Linked DNA regions of Homo sapiens: region 1 is linked to region 2. Evidence: fine-mapped expression QTL. A gene starts in region 2. The other region holds a variant in brackets. All regions are shown on one strand. Distances are from middle to middle. Region 1 overlaps BSN (bassoon presynaptic cytomatrix protein). Region 2 holds the start of QARS1 (glutaminyl-tRNA synthetase 1).

Region 1 (9,245 bases), 480 kb after region 2:
CTTTTTAGAAGATTATAGGATCTTTTTAGAAGATCCTAGAAATATGCATTTATATCTGTGAACCTATTGTGAATATACACACGCATACTTTTTTGAAGAAAGATCATACTAAATGCATTGCTTTGCACCTTGCTTTTTTCACTGAACAATACGGGAGATACTTCTCCCCACCCTCCCACTTTTCAGAGAATTAGCTGTTTTGGTCCCAGATAACTTTTGTAAGAGACAAGGTGTTGTCTCTTACTGAATTAGAGTAACCGCTGGTGCCTTTTGGGGCTGTTGGGTACTCCTGTGTCCCAGGTGAATCTCCAAGTAAACCACTATATCTTCTGTTCTAGCTGGATTCCTACTTGCTCCATCTCTGAGGGCACTGTGAGCTGCAGCAGCATCCTGCTTGGGGAGGACAGTGGCCTTGTCACCTAGGTTCTGCCTTTGGATTCCAGGGAGCTTCCAGGCTCTTGTCTCCCTTTCTGGCCAGGGCTGTCTCTTGAATGCAGGAATATCTGGGAAATTCCCTGTTTCTTCCTTGGTAAGAGGTGTGAATTCACTTTTCTTTTTTTTTCTTTTTTCTTTTTTCTTTTTTTTTTTGAGACAGAGTCTTGCTCTGTCACTCAGGCTGGAATGCAGTGGCACGATCTCAGCTCACTGCAACCTCCATCTCCTGGGTTAAAGTGATTCTTCTGCCTCAGCCTCCCAAGTAGCTAGGATTACAGGCACCCACCATGATGCTCGGCTAATTTTTTGAAATTTTAGTAGAGATGGGGTTTCACCATGTTGGCCAGGCTGGTCTTGAACTCCTGGCCTCAGGTGATTCACCCACCTCAGCCTCCCAAAGTGCTGGGATTACAGGCGTGAGCCACTGAGCATGGCCTCACTTTCTTTATTCATACCCTCATATCTGGGCAGTCTGCCTTGCTCAGGCTCATACTCATCTGAGCAGAAGACTGCTTTCAGAGGTTCCCTGGGAGCAGGGCCATTGCAGCATGAGTAGTCATTTGCAGCCAGCATCCTGCCTTTCTTCTTGATGCCAGATGGTGCCCTACATTGGTATATGCTGCCTGTGTCCCTTCAGAGACTCAACCCCAATCCGGAAGGAGGGTGGTTCCCATCTCTCTGGAACTCTTCTCCAAAGGTTTTGGTGTTTGGAATTTGAAATTTTTTTCTAGTGCAGTCCATCTCCACCTTGGGTCAGACCTCCTTTCCAGGGCACGATAGTGCTTGGAGTCATTCATTTATTCAACAAATATGTATTGAGCACCTGTTACATGCCAAACACTGTTCTAGGCAGTACTTAATGTTGGCTACTAATTATGTCCTGCTCCCGAATTTCTTCGCTATCTTGCTTGTTTCCCTATGGCTTGTGAGAGGCTTCTGCCTCTAAATTTACCCCAGGAATATGAATTTTGAATTTCTAGGCAATCAAATTACAAGAGTTTGTTCCTGGGTTTTAACTCAAATTCTACCCTACTGGGAACATTTTTTATCTTCTATGAAATGGCAAACAGCTAGGAGACATGTTTCCTAGGAACTGGCCTTCTTGGTGCATTTCAGAGGAAGCACTTCATTTCAGAGGGTTGAGATTGTGAGAGCAGGGCTTGGAGGCCAGGAGTTCCCAGGCCAGGTCCTAGCCTTGCTGCCTGTTTTTCTGTTGACCTTCAGCTGCTTTGTTTCTTTTTTCTTTTCTTTTCTTTCTTTTTTTTTTTTTGTGAGACAGAGTCTCGCACTGTCGCCCAGGCTGGAGCTCAGTGGCATGATCATGGCTTACTGCAACCTCCACCTCCCAGGTTAAAGCGATTCTCCTGCCTCGGCCTCCCAAGTAGCTGGGATTACAGGCATGCACCACCATGCCTGGCTAATTTTTGTATTTTTAGTAGAGATGGGGTTTTACCATGTTGCCCAGGCTGGTCTCAAACTCCTCACCTCAAGTAATCCACCCGCCTCGGCCTCCCAAAGTGGTGGAATTACAGGCATGAGCCAACGCGTCAGCTTGCTTTGTTTCTTTAATCTTTAGTTTTCTTGGAAAAAATGGAAATGATAAGAATACCCACCTGTGTGGTTGTTAGGCAGGTATTATGTAAAGGAAGAGCCTGCTACATAGAGTGAGCTGAGAACTGCTGGGGGTAGCGGGGTTACTGTCCTGATTCCCAGCAGTGAAAGGCATTTAAATCATTACAGGTTTCACACCTAAGTTTTCTTTTTTCATTTTAAACATCACTTGTTATTTTCTAATTTTGTGGATGCTTAATACATTAGCACACTAATACATGCTTACAATTTAGAAACGAATATTGCATATTTGGGGGCTGTAGGCTCGGCTATCCTTTTCTTAAAGACAGGACCGTCCTTGTTGCCCACCTAGGATGGTCTCAAACTCCTGCCCTCAATGCTGCCACAGCCTCCCAAGTAACTGGGATTATAGGCACAAGCCACTGTGCCTGGCTAGTTACTCTTTTAAAAATATCTTTCTGAGATATAATTCACTTACCATAGAATTCACTCATTTTAACTGTGCCATCCAATGGTTTTTAGTGCACTTAGAGTTCTACAACCAAAGCTACAGTTTTTTTTTTTTTATAAGACGGAGTCTCGCTCTGTCGCTCAGCCTGGAGTGCAGTGGTGCGATCTCAGCTCACTGCAAGTTCCGCCTCCTGGGTTCACGCCATTCTCCTGCCTCAGCCTCCCGAGTAGCTGGGACTACAGGTGCCCACCACCTTGCCCGGCCAATTTTTTGTATTTTTAGTAGAGATGGGGTTTCACCGTGTTAGCCATGTGGTCTCAATCTCCTGATCTCGTGATCCACCCGTGTCGGCCTCCTAAAGTGCTGGGATTACAGGTGTGAACCACCGCACCTGGCCCAAAGCTACAATTTGAGAACATTTTCATCACCCACAAGAAGAAACCCCATACCCAAAATGTCACTTTCCATTCTTCCCCCCTCTATCTATCCTCCAGGCCTAAGGTAACCACTAATCTACTATCCACCTCTCTAGATTTGCCTATTCTGGACATTTCATATAAATGGAATCATGCAATGTGTGTTTTGGGGGTTTGGCTTCTTTCACTTAGTGTGTTTTCCAAGGCTCATCCAGGATGTAAGATGTAGTGTGTATCAGCACTTCATTCCTTTATTCATTTATTTGTTTAGAGAGGGAATCTTACTCTGTCACCCAGAGGACATGGAGGCTGGAGTACAGTGGTATGATCATGGCTTACTGTAACCTCAAACTCCTGGGCTCAAGAGATCCTCCCACCTCAGCCTCCCAAGCAGCTAGGACTACAGGCATGCACCACCATGCCTGGCTAATTTTTTTTTTTTTTTTAAGTGACAGAATCTTCCTATGTTGCCCAGGCTGGTCTCAAATTCATGGCTTCAAGTGATCCTCCTGTCTCAGGCACCCAAAGTGCTGGGATTACAGGCATGAGCCACTGCACTCAGCCAGTTACTTCTTTCCTTCTTATTGCCCAGTGATATTTCATTGTATGGATGTACCACATTTTATCCATTTATCAATAAGTATGATTTTAGGTATGGGTTTTTCATAGATGCGCTTTACAATTTTTTTTTTTTTTGAGACGGAGTCTCGCACTGTTGCCCAGGCTGGAGTGCAGTGGCAGGATCTCTGCTCACTGCAGCCTCCGACTCCAGGGTTCAAGCAATTCTCCTGCCTCAGCCTCCTAAGTAGCTAAGATTACAGGCGCCCGTCACCACGCCCAGCTGATTTTTTCTTTCTTTCTTTTTTTTTTGTATTTTTAGTAGAGACAGGGTTTCACCATGTTGGTCAGGCTGGTCTCGAACTCCTGACCTCATGATCCACCAGCCTCGGCCTCCCAAGGTGCTGGGATTACAGGTGTGAGCCACCGCACCTGGCTAGATGCGCTTTAAAAAATTGAAATTCCTTTCTATTTCTAGTCTGTTAAATTTTTTTAAGCATAAAAAGGTATTGAATTGGAAAAGGTATGAAATGCTTTCTGCATCTATCAAGATGATCATGTAGTTTTTGTAATCTTGATAGATGGTTTTTGTCCATCATTCTATTAATATGCTATATTAATTGATTTTTTAGATGTTAAGCCATAATTGCATGTCTGAGAAAAATTCATTTGGTTATTATATTAAATCCTTTCTATATGTCACCGGATTTGTTTTGCTAGTAGTTGTTTATAATTTTTGCATCTATAGTAACAAGATATATTGGTCTAAAGTTTTCTTGTGATGTTTATGTCTGTTTTTTTACAAATTTAATTTGATTATTTTATTTTGTTTATTTCATTTTATTTAGATACAGGGTCTCATTATGTTCCTGAGGCTAGATTCAAACTCCTGGGCTCAAGTGATCCTCCCACCTTATTCCCCTGAGTAGCTGGGACTACAGGCATGTGCCACCACATCCAATTTATGTGTGGTTTTGATATCAGGGTAATTGTGGCCTCATGGAATGAGTTGAGAAGTGTTTTATCCTGTTCTATTTTTTGGAAGAGTTTGTGAAAGATTAATATGAAATCTTAAGACAGTTTTATTGAGATATAATTAATATGCCAGAAAATTTACCCATTTAAAGAGTATAATTCAGTGGTTTATTACGTATTACATTATAAATTTTTTTAGGATCTTGCTCTGTCACCGAGGCTGGAGTGCAGTGGTGCGATCATGACGCACTGCAGCCTCAGCCTCCTGGGCTCAAGCAGTCCTCTCATCTCAGCCTCCCGGGCTCAAGCAGTCCTCTCATCTCAGCCTCCCAAAGGGACTACAGTCATGCACCACCATGTCTGGCTAATTTTTTAATATTTTGTAGATATCAGGTTTTACTATATAGTCTAGACTGGTCTCGAGCTACTGTACTCAAGCAATCCTCCTGCCTCTGCCTCCCAAAGTGCTGGGATTTACAGGCATGAGCCACTGTGCCTGGTCACATTATTAATCTTTTAAAAATGGTGATAAAATATAAATATCATAAATTTGCCATTTTAACCATTTTAAGTGTACAATTTAGTGGCATTAATTACTGTATATTCATGATTCATGTTGTGCAACCATCACCACTATCTATTTCTAAAATTTTTAATCACCCCAAACTCTGACCATTAACCAGCACCTCCCCATTGACCCCTTTCTTCAGCGCCTGTTAACTTTTTTTTTTTTTTCTTTTTGAGACAGGGTTTTGCTCTCATCACTCAGGCTGGAGTGCAGTGGTGTAATCTTGGCTCACTGCAACCTCTGCCTCCCGGGCTCAAGTGATTCTCATGCTTCAGCCTCCCAGGTAGCTGGGCCTACAGAAGTGTGCCACCATGCCAGGCTAATTTTTGTATTTTTAGTAGTAAAGACTGGGTTTCGCCATGTTGGCCAGGCTGGTCTTGAACTCCTGACCTCAAGTGATCTGCCCACCTCAGCCTCCTAAAGTGCTGGAATTACA[G/C]GCATGAGCCACTGCGCCTGGCCTATCCATTTATTGATGGGCACTTGGGTTGTTTCTACTTTTTGACTCCAGTAGTCCCCCCTTATCTGCGGTCTTGCTTTCTGTGGTTTTAGTTACCCACGGTATGGTACAATCATATTTTGAGAGAACACATTCATATAGCTTTTATTACAGTATATTGTTATAACTGTTCTATTTTATTATTAGTTATTGTGAATCTCTTATTGTGCCTAATTTATATATTAAACTTCATCATAGGTTTGTATATGTAGGAAAAAACAAGGCTGGGCATGGTGGCTTACGCCTGTAATCCCAGCACTTGGGGAAGCCGAGGTGGGCGGATCACAAAGTCAGGAGATCGAGACCATCCTGGCCAACATGGTGAAACCCTGTCTCTACTAAAAATACAAAAATTAGCTGGGCATGGTGGCACGCGCCTGTAGTCCCAGCTACTTGGGAGGCTGAGGCAGGAGAATTGCTTGAACCCAGGAGGCAGAGGTTGCAGTGAGCCGAAATCGCGCCACTGCACTCTAGCCTGAAGAGAGAGCAAGACTCTGTCTCAAAAAAAAACCCAAAAAACAAAACAAAAAAAAACAAACTTTGTGTATATAGGCATCTACTGGGGGTCTTGGAACATATCCCCTGAGGATAAGTGGGGGCTACTATATTGTGAATAATGGTGTAATAAACATTGGCATTCAAGTATCTGTTCAAGTCCCTGGTTTTACTTCCTCTGGATATAAACCTAAGAGTGGAATTCCTGGATCATATGGTAATTTTATGTTAGGCTTTTCGAGGCGCTGCCAAAAATTTTTCTGTAGCAGCTGTACCGTTTTACATTTCCACCATCATTGTATGAGGGTTCCAATTTTTCCACGTCCTTGTCAACACTTGTTATTTTCTGTTTATTTTGTTTGTTTTTAGTAATAGCCTAAAGAGTGTGAAGTGGTATCTTATTGTAGTTTTGATTTGCATTTTTCTAATCAATGGCTTATTGGCCATTTGTAAATCTTTAGAGAAATGTCTGTTCAAGTCCTTTGCCTATTTTTGTTTTCAAGACAGGGTCTTGCTGTGTTGCCCAGGCTGGAGTTCAGTGGCTATTTACATTTGCAGTCATAACACACTACAGGCTCAAATTTCTGGGCTCAAGCAACCCTCTTGCTTCAGCCTACTGAGGAACTGGAACTACAGGCCCAGCTGAAATGAACTGCCTTTTGTGTGTTGATTTTATATCCTTCAGTTTTGCTGAAGTTGTTTATTAGTTCTAACTTTTTTGTGGCCTGTTTAGGGTTATCTACATGTAAGATCATGTGGTCTGCAGGTAGAGATAATTTTACTTCTTCTTTTCCAATTTGGATGTCCTTTATTTATTTTTTTTCTTGCCCAATAGCTCTGACTAGGACTTCCAGTACTATGTTAGATAGAAATGGTAAAACTTCCTTGCACATCGTTGTCTTGTTTCTGATTGTAAAGGGAAAGCTTCTAATTTTTCACTATTGAGTATTATGTTAGCTGTGAACTTTTCATAAATAGTCCTTATCATATTGAGAAAGTTCCCTTCTATTTCTAGCTTAAGTCTTTTGAATCATGAAAGTGTATTGACTTTTGTCAAATGCTTTTTCTGCATCAATTGAGGTAAACATATAGTTTCTTCCCTTCATTCCCTTCATTCTATTAATATGGTGTATTACATTTATTTATTTATTTATTTATTTATTTATTTATGAGACAGGGTCTTGCTCTGTTCCCAAGGCTGGAGTGCAGTGGTGCAATCTTGGCCCACTGCAGCCTCTGCCTCCCAGGTTCAAGAGATTCTCCTGCTTCAGCCTCCAGAGTAGCTGGGATTACAGGTGCGTGCAACTACTCCTGGCTAATTTTTGTATTTTTAGTAGAGATGGGGTTTCACTATATTGGCCAGGCTGGTCTCAAACTCCTGGCCTCAAGTGATTTGCCCACCTCGGCCTCCCAAAGTGCTGGGATTACAGGTGTGAGCCACTGTGTCTGGAACATTGATTGATTTTTGGATGTTCAGTCAACCTTGCATTCCAGAAATAAAGCCCAATAGAAGGATGTACAATACTTCTAATATGCTGCTGAATTCAGTGTGCTAGTATTTTCTTAAGGATGTTTGCATCTCTTTTCATAAGGAAAATTGATCTGTAGTTTTCTTGTAGTATCTTTGTTGATATTAATTTATTTTTGGCTGGGCACAGTGGCTCATGCCTCTAATCCCAGCACTGTGGGAGGCTGAGGTGGGAGGATCACTTGAACTCAGGAGTTCGAGGCTGCAGTGAGCTATGATTGTGTCACTGCATTCCAGCCTGGATGACAGAGCAAGACCCTGTCTGTTATAAAATAAAATTTTTAAAAAATAAATTCTTTTTCAATGGTTAGTAGGATTCACCAGTGAAGACAACTGAGCATAAGCTTTTCTTTGTGGGAAGTTTTAAAATTACTTATTCAGTTTATTTATGTGTTATAGGTCTATTCCGATTTTTCATTTCTTCCTGAGTCAGTTTTGATAGTTTGCATCTTGGAATTTGTCAATTTCATCTAAATTACCTAAGGATGTGTGGTTGTTCATAGTATTCTCTTGCAATCCGATTTATTTATTTATTTATTTATTTATCAAGATGGAGTCTCGCACTGTCGCCCAGGCTGGAGTGCAGTGGCGCGATCTCGGCTCACTGCAAGCTCTGCCTCCCGAGTTCACTCCATTCTCCTGCCTCAGCCTTCTGAGTAGCTGGGACTACAGGTGCCCACCACCATGCCCAGCTAATTTTTATTTTTATTTTTTTTATTTTTAGTAGAGACGGGGTTTCACCGTGTTAGCCAGGAGGGTCTCGATCTCCTGACCTCGTGATCCACCCACCTCGGCTTCCCAAAGTGCTGGGATTACAGACGTGAGCCACCACGCCCGGCCAATCCTTTTAATTTATTTAAGATTGGTAGTAACATCCTTTCTTTTATTTCTGATTTTAGTCATTTGAATCTTTTTTTCTTTGTTAAAAGAAGGCTTATTGATTTTTTTTTTATCTTTTGAAAGAACCATCTTTTGGTTTTATTGTCTTTCTCTATTTTCTATTCTGTATTTCACCTCTAATCTTTATTATTTTCTTCATTATATTTACATTGTGTTTAGTTTGCTCTTCTTTTTCTAAGTATTAAGTCGGAAGTTTAGGTTATTGGTTTGAGGTCTTTTCTCTTTTTTGTTTTATTTTCTATTTTTCATTTTTTTGGGCACTTAGTAGGTGTATATATTTATAAGGTACCTGAGATGTTTTGATACAGGCATGCATCGTGAAATAAGCACACCATGGAGAATGGGGTATCCATCCCCTCAAGCATTTATCCTTTGAGTTACAAACAATCCAATCACATTCTTTAAGTTATTTAAAAATATACAATTAAGTTATTATTGACTATAGTCACCTTGTTGTGCTATCAAATAGTAGGTCTTATTCATTCTTTCTAACTATTTTTTTGTGTACCCATTAACCATCCTCACCTCTTCCACCACCCTCCCACTACCCTTCCCAGCCTCTGGTAACTATCCTTCTCTTCTCCATGTTCATGGGTTCAATTGTTTTGATTTTCAGATCCCACGAATAAGTGAGAACATGCGATGTTTGTCTTTCTGTGCCTGGCTTATTTCATTTAACATAATGATCTCTAGTTCTGGCCGTATTGTTGCAAATGACTGTATCTCATTCTTTTTTTATGGCTGAGTAGTACTCCACTGTATATACGTGCCACATTTTCTTTATCCATTCAGCTGTTGTTAGACACCTAGGTTGCTTCGAAATCTTAGCTATTATAAACAGTGCTGCGACA
Region 2 (9,061 bases):
TCTGAAAACTTGCCCTTGCGCATTGCCTGAGGGGAACAAGGACTCAGGCTGTCTCTAAGCACAGGAGCATCTCATTCTCAGCACCTTGGCCCACCCAAACCCAGATGCTCCTCTAGGACCCCACCTCAAAGAGCAGCAGTGACTCCTCCATGGGACGGTCTCTCCAGGGTGAAGGCAGAGTATTATGGCCTTTGAGCTCCTCTCCTCGCTGGTGGCACACATAAGCCAGACCCCTGTGGGGAAGCGGTGTGAGTGCCCAGCATGGCTGTGACCTAGTCAGTCTGCCTGGCTCTACGTCATGGCCCTGGCCTTACCTGCGGATGAGCTCCACAGCCCACGCATATAGCTGGTCAAAATAGTCAGACGCATATGTGACTTTGTAAGGTGTGTAGCCTGGGGCAAAATGAAACAAAGTATGAGCAGCCAGCCACAAACACCCAGTGGGCAGGCCATGGCCCAAGGAGAGGCCCACTAACCACCAGCCCTTCTAGGCTTTGCCTAGTCCATACCTAGCCAGGCTACCATGTCACAGATGGCCGTGAAGAACTTTGCTTCCTCCTTCTCAGGGTTGGTGTCATCAAAACGCAGAAAACAGATGCCATTGTTGGCCTAGGAAAGTTGCACCATCTGTGAACTCCCACATCATCCATCAGCCCCACAATCCTGTTTATCAAACTAGGATATTCACAGAGCACTCTCATGTCAGAATTTTCTTTTTTTTTGAGATGGAGTCTTGATTATCTTGCACCATCTTGGCTCACTGCAGCCTCCACCTCCTGGGTTTCTCCTGCCTCAGCTTCCCAGTAGCTGAAACTACAAGCGTGTGCCACCATGGCCAGCTAACTTTTGTATTTTTAGTAGAGATGGGGTTTCACCATGTTGGCCAGATTGGTTTCGAACTCCTGACCTCAAGTGATCCACCCACTTTAGCCTCCCGAAGTGTTGAGATTACAGGCGTGAGCCACCCAACCCGGACTCATGTCAGAATTAAAAATGTCTTCAAGAGCTTCTCTCACCTTCCTGTATCTAACCTAGCATCTTTCTAAGCCTAGGGACTGCACTGGCAACTCCCCCAAATTTGAACTCACTGACTCCTCAGAGGGAGGGAGCTATTTATTCCAATAAGCTCAATAGATTCCTAGGTATCTGTCACACATGTGGTTCCTTTCCATGGCCTCTGCCCACCTGGGTACATTATTGGGAGCAGACAGCAAGGCAGGGATATGGTATCCACTCATGGGAACAGCAAGTGGTCATCTTGCTTGCCAGGTCCCTAGACACATGCTTACCTTGGCATAGCCAAAGTTGAAATTGATGGCTTTGGCATGTCCAATATGCAGGATTCCATTGGGTTCTGGCGGGAACCGGGTACGTACCTAAAATAAGGGGGATGGGAAAAGAGAAATAAAGTCTGAGCTCAGATGACCTTAAAGAAACAGATGTTCCCTCCCAGGAAGGCCATGGTGATGGGTGAGATGGGGCAGTATGGACGCAGCCCAGGCACTCAGGCAGGTGTTTGATGGCACAAGCTCACATGGCCACATCCCCACACACCTGCCCACCAGTAATCTCCAGGTGCTGCTTTAGTAGATTCATGGTGTGTGGAGTGACCACATAGCCTGGGGTCTTGTAGTTCTCACCTGCCAGGACCAGAATAAGCCTAAGGACCAGGCTGCAGCCAAAGCCTCTGACCCCAGGGGCCTGACTATAGGAGCTGCTGCCAAGATCCAGCCCTCCCCAGGGTTTTGACATGCCCACTAACCAGGCTTGTGGAACTTAAGGGCCTCCCCCCGGAGCTGCTCCATCAGAGACAGGGTCTGGTCAGCAGTCTCGCCTGTGGGGAACAAAACAAGGAAAACTTGTCCTCTAGATACATTTACCATATCCTACAGCCAGAACAGAACTGAGTAGACCCCTATTCCCTCAATTCCAGAGACAAGATATCTAGAGCCAGACATCTGAGGCCTCTCATGCCAGTCTCTGGGCAAAGGGAACAAAAGAAACACCAGGAATCCCAGTCTTGAGACAGAAGTCAGGGTACTGAGTAAGCCAAGGGCCTGAGGAGCCTGTAAGGACTCTTCTGAGGAGGTTCAGAAGTCAGGGAGCTGAATGCTGTGACAGGAGTCTCAAGCTTCTCACCATTCTCCACCACATCCTTTGCCGTCCTCCGGTCTGTTTCTTCTAGCCGAGCTTTTGCCACCTGAAAGAAGCCCCAGGTGCTTCAGAAAATGGCATCAAATTTTCTCTTGGATAGGGTCTTGGGATCCCTGTGGTCAGACACTTCCTTCCCCAGCCTGAAGTCTCACCATACCTCACCTCACCCTCAGGGACTCAGGGCCATGCCCATCCCTACCTTGAACTTCTTCTCCAGATCAGCCTCCAACTTGGGGCCCAGAAGGTGGAGGACCTGAGCAGAGACCAGAATCAGGCAGAGGCAGGAGTATCCTCTTTCAAGGAGCCCCTGACTGATCCTACCCACCAACCCAAGGCTTCCTGGCCTATCTACCAGCACTGACTGAAAAAACCTACCTAGCCCATCCCATCTCTTCTCATGTGGGTCTGCTAGCTTAAAATGCTCTTGCTCTTGTTGCCCAGACTGGAGTCTTGCTCATGTTGCCCAGGCTGGAATGCAATGGCACAGTCTCCGCTCACTGCAACCTCCGCCTCCTGGATTCAAGCGATTTTCCTACCTCAGCCCTTCTGAGTACCTGGGACTGCATGTGCCCGCCACCACACCCAGCTAATTTTTGTACTTTTTGTAGAGATGGGGTTTCACCATGTTGGCCAGGCTGTTCTCAAACTCCTGACCTCAGGTGATCTGCCCACCTCAGCCTCCCAATAGTGTTGGGATTACAGGTGTGAGCCACCATGCCCAGCCCCCTCCCACCTTTTTTTATTGTTGTTGATTTTGAGACAGGGTCTCATTCTGTACTCCAGGATGGAGTGCAGTGGTGCAATCAGAGCTTACTGCAGCCTTGATCTCTTAGATTCAAGCAATCTTCCCACCACAGCCCCACAAATTGCTGGGACTACAGGTATACACCACCATGTCTGGCTAATTTTTAAATTTTCTGTAGAGAGGAGTTCTCAATATGTTGCTCAGGCTGGTCTTGAACTCCTGGGCTCAAGTAATCCTCCTGCCTCAGCCTCCCAAAGTGCTGGGATCAGAAGCGTGAGCCACCATGCCCAGCCCTCTTCCTGCCTTTTATCCCTTAGTGGATTCCAGGCTCTGTTCATGCCAGAGTCTTTGCCAGCTTCAGCTTAGTGAAGCACGCTCACCTGCATGTCCACTTCATTCTTGATCATTTTGCCATCTGCCCACTTCAGCACAGCCCGAGCCTCTCCTAGAAGCATAGGCACAAGGAGCTGCAGAAAGGCAAAAAAGAGTACTCCCCCCACCTCTTTCCCAAGGAAAGGTCCTGGCTGACCACCAGAACCAGAGCCTGAGCCCAGCCAGACCACTTTAAGTCACTCCTGTTCCTTCCCCCACCTCCTTCTCACTCGTGCCCAGAAGAAAAGGCATGACCAGAGAGAACAATATAGCCCCGTTCCAGGCCCTGCTCACCCATCAGCAGCCCCATGTTGAAATGGTAACGTTCCACCAGGAGCTGGGGCCGGTGCCTGTTAATAGCAGCCTCCACCTGCAGAAAGCCAAACCATGTGGTTCAGGAAAGCCACCTTTAGAGATATTCTGGGAACCCACACCCTCACTCTGGGTCTTCCTGAGGAGGGAAACTGAGCCACTCCTTTCCATGGCCAGGACTGGGGAGGCAGACGATGCCTGGGGAAAGACTCACAGCCTCCTCAATCTGCTCTGGGGTCACAATGACACCCACGCCACATTCCCGCTCGAAGTCCACAGTGTCGATGGGGTCCAAGGGGTGACTCCGCACATACTCAAGGGCAGCTGAGAAGAAAGAGCCCGTGAGTTTGTGGCATCTCTGCTCCAAGAAGTGGACAGACAGGGTCCTAATCTCATGAAACTCCAAGGATAGTCTGGCCTCCTGAAAAGTTAAGCCCTGGCACCACCACCCTAGAGAACACAGGGAAGAAAGAAGCACGTGTCGAGAGTGGATCCCCCCTCAGACCCTGACAGTTCCCGTGTCAGTCTCACCATAGGCCACCCCTTCCATGCCTCAGTGCCTGTGCAGAACTAGGTGTCTAGAAAGAAACTGGAGGACTTGGCAAAAAGGGAAGACAGGGGTCTTGGCTGAAGGGAGGCATTGGTGCGAACTGGCAGGACAGGTAGGGGTCTCACCGCTTAGCTGGGGCTCAGTGTGGATCTTCTTACTGGCTATGTAGCTTACAAGGAAGGAGAGACGCCGGGTATCCCTGAGTCGGGAGGCCAAGCCATATAACAGGATCCCGGTAGCTTTGTCAATGGTGGAACCCAGGGTCTGCTGAGCCTGAGGTCAGAGGGGTCAAGAGAGAAGCCCCGCGCTCAGTGAGAGGAAAGGGCGGGACAAACGGGGCAGGTCGGGATCTGGACCCCGCCCCGCGCTGCGTTGCAGCATGGTCTGCAAACCAGGCCGGGGGCAGAGGGGCTCGCACCTGAGTAGCGGCCTCGCGCAGCTGCGCGCTCAGAGCCGAGTTCTTGAGCGTCTCGCGGGCCTTCTGCTCGCTCAGGCCGAGGCTAGTGAAGAGCGACAGGGAGTCTAGAGCCGCCATTGCAGAGACACCGGAAACTAAAAGAAACTTAGGCCCCAGTCTGCAGGTCGGCATTCACTCGCTGACCAATGAGAGTGAAGCCTCCGGGGAGAGCCAATGGGGTCCTTCCTTGGCGGGAGGGGGCGGGGCGCTCCAAGGTCGTCTATCCCCTTTAAACAACACAGGGCGGACAAACCGGCCTTTCCGGGGGCTTTGCTTCCGCCTCCGTGGAACTGGGAACTTGAAGGGGTGTTGGCAGGCGGCAGGGCTTTTGGAGATATTTGCCACGGACCTGGAAGGAAGGTGTTCGTCCCTGAGGCAGGAGGAAGACACAGGCGTGGTTTTGCTCTGACTTTTCTACTTCAGCCCTGGTAACTCCATCTCAATATAGTAATTGTCCTCGGGGGCAAATGCGAGTCCCTGTCACGCTTTTGACGCCACAGCTTTGGAGTTGTCATGGAAACAGTTGAACAAATGAAGCCCAGGAAATCCCTCATCCAGACTCCATCGTAGAGAATGTGTGGAATGACCGATCCAGGGGCCCCATAAGTCCGCCGGTTTTCAGGTGCCCACTTGGACACAGCTGGCCAGGAAAGGGAAGGGACGGGTCTGGGCCAGGAGGGACCTCACATAAGTTCTATGATGATTTGGTTTAAAATCTTGGCCGGGCGCAGTGGCTCAGGCCTTTAATCCCAGCACTTTGGGAGGCCGAGGCGGGCGGATCACTTGAGGCCAGGAGTTCGAGATCAGCCTCGCCAACATGGTGAAACCCTGTCTCTACTAAAAATACAAAAATTAGCCGGGCGTGATGGCGCACGCCTGTAATCCCAGCTACTCAGGAGGCTGAGGCTGGAGAATCGCTTGAACCTGGGAGGCGGAAGTTGCAGTGAGCCGAGATTGTGCCACTGCACTCCAGCCTGGTCAACAGAGTAAGACTGTCTCAAAAAAAAAAAAAGAAAAGAAAAAAAAATCTCATCCCACACTTACCCTCTTGCCAAAGCATTATCAGGAAAACCACAAGCAAATTAGACCTTGAAATCCCTCTGCAGGCCTTTGAGAGGATATTTTATTGAGCTTGTGAGAGGGTGGGACAAATGAGATGGTTATAGCTTCATGATTATAGCTGTTGTGCTTGGGGATCTTTCCACAGTCTCACTGGACTTCCAGGACCTGCTGGCTGAAACAGAACAGAGACTTTGTGTGTGTGTGAGAAAAGGGACTAAGGTAGTAAGGGACTGAGGTAGGGGGTTGCAGAGAATGAGCAGCTGGTGGTGGGATGGTGGAAATCCCCACATTTGAGATTGGAGCTCTTGCAGGAATTGGTGATGCTCATACTTCTGGACCTTCAAGGAATAGGCAGGATCCTGACTAGTCTTTATCTATATTCTGTGTCTTTTGTGCCCACATCCCATTATTAATGACCAACCTCCAAGTCTGGGCCTACATCTGGATACCACCTAATGATCACATGCCAGGTGCAGACCAGGGCCACATGCTGTATCGCTATCCAGGTCCAATGCTGTCCTGGGGCTTCCCACATCTCCATGGCCCCGTGGCCCCAGCCAGATGCCTAGCCCTGCAGTGTACTGCATGAGAAAGGCCAGGTGCAGGAATTAAGCAGGGGATGCAGACCAGTGGTGCTAAGGACAGGTACCAAGAAGCAGAGCCATAGCCACACCAGCCGTGCACCAAATTTGAAGCTGCAAGTACCCAGCCCACCATAAAGGTGCCCATGGTGAGCAAAGCCATGCAGAGTGCCTGCCACTGCCACTATTTCCTCAGTACCTGATGCTGCCAATAGATTCACTGTAGCACCATCACCAAGTCCTACAGGTCTAGTGATGGCTCCCTCAATGAGATCAAGATCTGCACTCCCTTCCCTGGTTACTTCATGGTACACTGTGGACGCCATGGCTACAAGTCATAGAATGAGGCAGTAGCCCCACCAGTGTCACCAAGAATGCCACAAGTGGTAGCATACCAGTCGATATCCAGCTAGTGCCCTAGATGTCTACGACTTGCACAAAGCAGAAATGTTAAATTGTATGGGCCCAGTCTGGAGGTTAGCTTGCCTGCATAAGCCCCTGGCACTGCTTCCAGGAAAAGTCAAGACAAAGATGACCAAGTGGAAAAACCAGGCAGCAGCCAGCAAGGCCCAGTCGTGGAATGGACAGAGGTAGGGTCCAGCAACCTCCTGGGCTCAAACGATCCTCCCATCTCAGCCTCTGAAATATTTGGGACTACAAGTGCATACCATAAGAGCCAGCTAATTTTTATATTTTTGGTAAAGACAGGGTCTCACTATGTTGCCCAGGCTGGTCCTGAACTCCTAGGCTCAAGCTATCCTCCCACCTCGCCCCAAAGTGCTGGGATTACAGGCATAAGCCACCACACTTGGCCAGTTTCAGCAACTTTTTTTTTTTTTTTTTTTTTTGAGACGGAGTCTTGCTCTGTCGCCCAGGCTAGAGTGCAGTGGCGCGATCTCGGCTCCCTGCAACCTCCGCCTCCCAGGTTCAAGCGATTCTCCTGCCTCAGCCTCCCAAGTAGCTGGGATTACAGGTGCCCGCCACTGCACCTAATTTTTGTATTTTTAGTAGAGACGGGGTTTCACCATCTTGGCCAGGCTGGTCTCGAACTCCTGACCTCATGACCCACTCGCCTCGGCCTCTCAAAGTGCGGGGATTACAAGTGTGAGCCACCATGCCTGGCCAAAGAAGGAAGGCTTCAGGAACTCTTAAGGGAAGACTCTTCAGGCTGGCAGGCCCCAGCACCCTCCCTCCAATAGAAGTCAGACAAGATTCACTCTGGTCCTCTCTGCTTGTCCTCTTTTCAGGGCAGCAAGATCTGCCCCACAGCAGTTTTCCTCCTGCTCTGTTACCTGCAGGGATGCAGTTAGTGTTCAAGTTACAGCAAAGAAAAAGCTGAGGACAGGAGAGGAGGAGGAAGATCTCCCAGTACTTCTGTCCCCCAAGTCCTCCCTGACTTGTCAGCCCCAGGCTGCTCTGGTGAATGCACCTTTTACTCCACGCTGTCAGCTCCAGTGCTTCATATACTCCTCTGTCCCTTGGCTATATTGAGATCCTGACGATGCCTACCAAGCTGCCTCTTATGTAGGATCCAGAACCAGTGGGATGAAAGAGCAGCAGGTAGGCTCCAAAAAGCTGATAGCACTGGGGGCTTCATGACCCATAGGACATGAGCTGGGACCCCATCATCTCCCTTCAGACTAGGGCACTTTCAGGGTCTCTCATATATAAACACACATACACACACATACACACCGCAAATGATGGGGAGGGGAGGTGGCCCCAGCATGTGGTGGATCACAGTCACTAAGTCTACTTACTTATTATTTATTTTTAAAATATATTTAAACAGCAGCAGTCACTTCCAAAATGCAAAAAAAATTACAATTTTTAGAATAAAATTATAATGTTTATAATGCGGGTCAGAAGAATTGAAGGTACAACAGAATCAAATCACGCAGCACTGGAGGCGGCTGGAGAAGCCAAAGCCCACTGGTCAGGGGTCCAAGCTGACAAGAAGTCCCAACCTGAGAGGTCTCCACACCCAAATCATACCCCTCAGCTTCCCATTGACAGAGCCAGTGTCCTCTGGGTTAGAGAAGGAGAAGCGGCAAGGAGCTGGCCCTCTGTGTGGGTGTCCCAAACCCAGTCCCCCCCATCAGCCAGGGACCTGCTAATCCACCTCCTCCATGTTGCTGTAGGTGGGGGCTGGCCGATCCACAGGGGGGGCGAAGCGTTCAGGGGCTGTCCGCGTGGGGGCCACCTCGGGGGCCTGGCCAGGGCCTAGTCCCTGCAACAGAATACGAGGACAGGGGTTGGGGGCTGCCCAGCATGCCGCCTGGCATCCCGGGGGTGCTGGCTTGGAGCCCTGGCACCCAAGGGAGGGTCCCAAGGCAGGCGCAGACAGCAGCGGCGTTGAGACAGAGAGACGAGATTGGGCCTGAATAGTCTGGTTTTATTAACACTTTTAAGTACAGGAAGTAGCTTGGGCAGGGCCAAGCCTGAGGCCAAGGGTCAGAGCAGCAGGATGAATGGACAGACAGCCAGATGGATACACACCCTAGGATACTCTGCCCCTGCAGGGGCCACAACCTCCCCACCCTCTCCCACCAGATGCATAAGCTGAGGCCCAAAGCCCAGAGGTGTTCCCCACAACAAAGGCAGGCATGGCCTGGGGCAGGCAGGTAGGCCAGCTCACAGCAGCTGCCTGCAGGCGAGCTCATCTCCAGCGACTCTGGGATACCAGAGGATAGAACACGTTGAGCACGAGGGCCACCAAAGCCGCCACGGTGCCCAGGACAAAGTACCGGAGGCAGCCCTCATCTGGTGTGGTAGGGCCACGTGGTAGGGGGCCCACCCAGTCTTGGGGCCCCCAGGGACCCAGGGGC

The links.
Region 1: its variant is fine-mapped to the expression of QARS1 in whole blood (INTERVAL, PIP above 0.99).

Annotation. Positions count from the first base shown.
Region 1 is chr3:49,575,851-49,585,095 of GRCh38, forward strand. All of the region lies in intron 1 of BSN (bassoon presynaptic cytomatrix protein), which reads left to right. Among named protein-coding and RNA genes, the nearest start is that of BSN, 26 kb to the left of the region's middle. The variant G/C (reference allele first, on the strand shown) is at 5,412.
Region 2 is chr3:49,100,066-49,109,126 of GRCh38, forward strand. It overlaps QARS1 (glutaminyl-tRNA synthetase 1), which reads right to left and starts at 4,692. Exons shown (of 24, transcript NM_005051.3): 1 at 4,552-4,692; 2 at 4,259-4,406; 3 at 3,798-3,907; 4 at 3,566-3,641; 5 at 3,280-3,344; 6 at 2,354-2,407; 7 at 2,140-2,200; 8 at 1,763-1,834; 9 at 1,555-1,640; 10 at 1,290-1,376; 11 at 510-609; 12 at 315-393; 13 at 125-233; 14 at 1-26. The coding sequence starts at 4,668. It overlaps USP19 (ubiquitin specific peptidase 19), which reads right to left. Exons shown (of 27, transcript NM_001199161.2): 27 at 7,985-8,463. The coding sequence ends at 8,347. RefSeq lists enhancers at 289-789, 3,264-3,914, 4,464-4,653, 4,864-5,023, 5,217-5,866.